Linked DNA regions of Homo sapiens: region 2 is linked to region 1. The links come from fine-mapping of genetic effects on gene expression. Tissue or cell type: whole blood. Region 1 holds a variant in brackets; the other region holds the start of a gene. All regions are shown on one strand. Distances are between the middles of the regions.

What was found. PIP is the estimated chance that this variant, and not a neighbour inherited with it, causes the effect.
Region 2: ROBO1 starts here. The variant in region 1 is fine-mapped to the expression of ROBO1 in whole blood (TOPMed, PIP above 0.99).

The regions. Positions count from the first base shown.
Region 1 is chr3:79,018,315-79,021,080 of GRCh38, reverse strand. The region is part of intron 3 of ROBO1 (roundabout guidance receptor 1); the gene reads left to right. Among named protein-coding and RNA genes, the nearest start is that of MIR3923, 490 kb to the left of the region's middle. The variant C/T (reference allele first, on the strand shown) is at 1,266.
Region 2 is chr3:79,766,779-79,769,544 of GRCh38, reverse strand. It overlaps ROBO1 (roundabout guidance receptor 1), which reads left to right and starts at 1,547. Exons shown (of 31, transcript NM_002941.4): 1 at 1,547-1,793.

The DNA of each region.
Region 1 (2,766 bases):
AAAGATAGGTGCTGTTAACCAGAGTTTCCACAAAATGTCGCTCTAAGGTCGTTGGTTGCACCAGCAGCAACCAAAATCAATGTACAATTTGCTTTTAAATTTTTATCTTCCATTAGGTAATGAATGTGCTCACCTGAAAAGACATGGAAAAGCACAACACTATGTAGAAAAGAGCAAATCCTCCTTCTCTGCCCTATCCATTGCGCAGTTCTGTCCTCCAGAGGCAACCACCGAAAGCAGCTTCTTACATGTACTGCTAGACACCAAATAATTTTTTTTGAAGTTATGGTACACAACTCTGTAGATATTAATTCTGCCATTTATTCAGCATTCGGCATGTTAGGTATTTCACATAGTGTGTCTTTTTATTTATTTATTTATTTATTTAAGACGGAGTCTCGCTCTGTCGCCCAGGCTGGAGTGCAGTGGCAAGTTATCTCGGCTCACTGCAACCTCCGCCTCCTGGGCTCAAGCAATTCTTCTGTCTTAGCCTCCCGAGCAGCTGGGGCTACAGGCGAACGCCACCACGCCCGGCTAATTTTTGAATTTTTAGTAGAGACGGGGTTTCACCATATTGGTCAGGCTGGTCTCGAACTCCAGACCTTAAATGATCCGCCCGCTTGGGCCTCCCAAAGTGCTGAGATTACAGGTGTGAGCCACAGCGCCTGGCCACTGTGTCCTATTTAAAAGAAAGAAAGAAAAATGACTGACTCAATGAATGAATGCCTTTCAGACGTGTCAGGTTTGTTTTGCTTTGTGTATTTTTTGTTAATGCAATAAAATATCTCGAGAACAGAAACAGAGAAGAGAAAACAGACCTGGTCACAGAGCTATAACTGGCAGGTTGGGATTTCAGGGCGGGTATACTGAGTGTCAAACCTATGCCTGACTAGCTTCTCCTAACTGCAAACTCTGGGCTTGTCAAGATTGTTTTTTGCATTTGTTTCTCTCTCTCTTAAAATTACATCCCCATTGTTAGCTTTCTAATGTGTGGAGTATGAAGTTGAAAGAGAGAGTTTCAACTGAAACATGAGGAAATGATCCCAAGGCCCAACCCTGTGCCTTATGATTTGGATATCTTTTCTACAAGACCTTCAACAACTGCAACTTAAAAGAAAAGGATGGTTGTAAGAGACTGCCCATCTACTGATATGTTCTGGATAGTTCTCTGTTTACCTCCTGTCCTAAAGCCATGTTGCTCAAAATTGATTTTTTTTTTTTAAATGGGAATGGGGAGAAGTGAGAGTGGAGTTGAGAGTTTATTC[C/T]AATTCCTGGAAGCGGCAAGGAAGAGGTTAAGTTGGACCAGGAGGATTTTTGAAGTCTTTGGCTGGGAGGTTCCATTTGGAGAAAGGTGCAGGGGAGCTAGGGGTGGCGAGAGAAACAAGACAGTTTCTCATTCGCCTGGATTTCCGATTCCGAGCAATTGGATTCTCACCTGAGGGCGCAGTTGGGCACCCCTGGCTTGTGGATGGAAATATTGAGGAGCAGAACTTGCCTGACCAGCGCCTGGAGAATAGAGTGAAGCATGGAAAGGACCACGCGGCCCCTTTAAGTATTATCGGGCCGGGGAGGAGAGGGAGGGAACTGGGAGCCGCGGGGACTGTGGGGGAAACCCACAAGCAATTGAGCTGGAGAGGAGGCAGCGTGAGAGCAGAAACTTCAGACGCCGCTGATCCGGGAGGAGCTGGGGTGAGCCGCGGCGGCCGTCTCTCCCACCCGCAGCAGCATCCTCTCTGCCCTTCTCTGCCACCCCGGGGAGAGCCGGGAGCTGCCTCTTTACAGCTTCCACGAGCCAGGGGTGCAGGCAGCTGCCCCCAGGAAGTTTGGGCTTCTGCGTAGTTTAGGGGTGCCTGCGAGCGCCCCAGAGGGCGAGGGGCCGAGGGCGATGTTGGGCGCCGCGCGGGGCTGGGGGCGCCCAGAAGACGTGCGAGTGTCCGCGGTCCTGCTGCTGTCTCCAGTACCCTCCGCATCCCCCAAGTGATGGGAACAAGGGCCCGCCCAGGCAGCCGCTGTCGCCGCACCGCCCCCTCGCTCGCTCTCTGCGCGCGGAGTCACCCAGTCACACTCCCGGCACCCCGAGCCCTTCCTCCGGAGCTGCTGCTTCTACTTTGGCTGCTATCGCCGCCGCCGCGGGTGGCCCGCTGCTGACTGGGCTCGCCGGGAGACGGAGAAGCACTTTTTGGCCCTCCCTCAGCAGCTCTCACACCCCAACTTTGCCGCCGCCGCCGCGCCTGCCCTCGCAGCGGCGCTCGGCCGCACATTGTGGGGGCGCACGCCGGGAGGCTCCGCAAGACCGTGGAGGCAGGAAACGGCACTACTGCGCTTCTGCCTCGGCTCTTTGTTGTTCGCTTTGGATGGTTCTTGAAAGTGTCTGAGCCTCCTCGGAAATCCTGGGGCCGGAGAAGACAAACCTTGGAATTCTTCCTCTGCAAAAGTCTCTGAGATACTGACAAGCGTCCGGAAAGGTCGACGAGTAATTGCCCTGAAAACTCTTGGCTAATTGACCCACGTTGCTTATATTAAGCCTTTGTGTGTGGTGTGTGGCTTCATACATTTGGGGACCCTATTTCCACTCCCTCCTCTTGGCATGAGACTGTATACAGGATCCACCCGAGGACAATGATTGCGGAGCCCGCTCACTTTTACCTGTTTGGATTAATATGTCTCTGTTCAGGTAACCCCGCGTCTTCTTTCTTCACCCTTGATCCTCCCTGTTCGCCCCCTCTCCACTTTGCACGATCAAACCCAGAAGTGTATTTTGGTTAC
Region 2 (2,766 bases), 750 kb before region 1:
TAATCCCTGAAAGAAACTCTCTTCTTTCACCTCTCAGTCGTGTAAGAGTTAACTCTGTTTCCTACAAGGATGCAATCTGTAAGTTAGGTCTGGAAGGCAGCAAAGGCAACCTGGACTTGAAGTTAACACTTCTGTTGTCAAGGGTTACTGATTGGGGGAAGGGAAGGGGCTGTAAAGGGAAAGAGTTACGGAAATGAAGAGGGATTGTAGCACACACTACATAAATTCAAATGCTTTACATGTATTTGGAATAAGATCTCGAGTCTGTTGTATTTTTGCATTGTGTTTTCATTTATTTAGTTTACACATAGGTAGTGAATTTATAGGTTGGTTGATGTTAACCTTATCCAGAGTGGCCCTTTCCAACAATGTTCATTCAGTTGTACATTACATATATGTAATAATTTTGTAATTAAATTGGAATTTATCACAATTATTTACATCAAAGACAATAAAATTATGTTACTTCCTAAATTATAATATCAGTAAATATCGTATCTAGGATTTTGTGGAAAGTCTATGTCATTTTAGTTTAAATAAGGATTTCTCTTTTCCTCCACAAAATTAAAGGTCAAAGAAAACAGCATGTTTAAGACTTCAAATTAATATATATTAAGATTCAGCATTTAATATTCTAATTCTTAAAATAACTGGCTTTACCGATGATGAACTAAAGTGATTTTGCACACTATTACAATATTTCAAATTGCTAGTCACCACAGGTCGGCCTCACTTTAAATCTCCTTGTTATGCCAATTTGCATTACTAATGAACTTGCTAAGAGAGAAACTGTAAAAAGATAATGTAGCAATTAATAGTAAATGCTTGACATACTGTGACATTATAATACCTTTATGTTGATTTATATCTTTATGTCAATATTTACAAGGAAAATATTTTTGAATTTCTAATTTTGCGAAGTAAAAATGATGCTGACGCCATTGTCATTGATGGAATTTTTTCTGTAGCATTTGACTAATATAACCCGTGTTTTATAATTGGTAGACTCATATTTTAGCTTCTACTATCTACTACCCATGTAAGGTATTTTATTTGTAGTAGCTATGAATTGTAAATACAATTGGGTGTTGTGTGTACCTACGTGAAGTGCAGAAGTATTTGATTATATAAAATTTCCTGGATTTATATGAGAATAATGCATAATAGAGAGCAAAAGAGGGTTTTCCTGCCAAAAGTGTCTGTGTGAATTTTCCTTCGAAAATGTTCTTTTAAAATCCTTTGTATGATCAAAGCCACTCCACACAGACAATTAAAAGCAGCTATGGAATGATAGATCACATGACAGGAGTTAAATGTAAGGGTTTTTTTTTTTTTTTTTCCTCCCCCCTCGGTTAAACATCGCAGCAGGCATTACAATACCAGAGGTAACGAATCAATTAAATCCATTTTCCCCTCGGCGTCTCCAAAGCTGCGTGCCTAGTGTTGCTGTGTAGTTTAGACCGGAGCAGTAGGACCCAGGGGCCTCCGCAGCCACCAATAGAAGCGCACACTTGGACCTATTTGTATGCAATGCCTTCTGCTCTGCGCATTAATAGTAATACAGATAACGGGTTTGAAAGAATTCTCTACTGAAGAAGGATTGAATTTTTCCAGGGTGCTGATACAGAGAAGAAACCCGACTTCACTCTCTCCCTATTTCCCCACTCTTAGGTTTAAAAGTCTGTCACCTTTCGCTTGGTTTAAACTCGGAAAGGTCTCAGTGCACAGCAAAGTTGCAGGGCTGCGTCTGCACTACGGAGCCTCTAGATTGCTGAAAACAGTCTTATGGAAGGGTAAGTCTCGGAAATGGTTGCAAGGGAAGTGACAGCTGGCTTTTGATTTGTAAAAGGGGACACGCTGGGTTTTACACTAGTGGTTGTTGGAGTGCAGAATGGTTGCCGAGAGGACTCTGCAGTTTATCCAGAAATTGTGGCTGATGCGCCAGGGTGTTTTGGGGTAGAATCAAAAACCTTCAGGCTAAATCGGAAATTGCAGCCTTGCGATCGGGAGGGATTCAACAAGTTTTCCTGCAGGGATGCGATGTTTGTTTCTTCCTTGCCAGTTGTGCAGAGTGTCCGTTCCAGGTAGGCTGCGGCTGCTTAACAAAGAAGTTTTGGAATTTGTTTGTTGTGTGTGTGGCTGGGCTAACCCTTGTTGGAGTAGGTTTCGTGCCGCTTTTGGCTTCTTGGGGGCACACAGCGGAATTTGCTCTAGGGATGCGGCGAGCATCAGCGGTGTAGTGGGCTGGGGCCGGGCAACTTTGCAGCCTAATCTCAGTGCCGCTGACCGCACCGTTGTTCGTGATGTGAGCTGACTGAGGCATAGACACGGGCAGGCTGCAGGGAGCTTCCAAACTTTGAAAGCATTCTCCAGGAATGGATGCGCGTGGGGGCTTTGAAAATAAGCGTTACTAGGTGGATTTTGGTAAACTCTTGGCGGTATGTAGGCAGTGGGGACTTTTGACACTTGCATTTCCAACCTGCAGGATTTTGCTTGAAAACATGGTGCTGATGTGAAGACGAGAGCTTAAAGCTAAGCCAGCGGGGACTTTGAGGGAGGAAATGAGGGAGGGAAGGAGGAAGAATGAGAGAAGACAGATGAATGAAAAAGGTGCGTCCCATCTTTCACACACAAAAACCACACGAGTGGGACGAACCAGGAAGCGCTCCAGTTGGTGGCGTTTAGCTGGAAAACGTATTGCAGGGAGGTCCAGGAGCCTCTGCATTATTGATGAAACGCCGTGCCCTTCTGGGGCCCCTTCTTGCT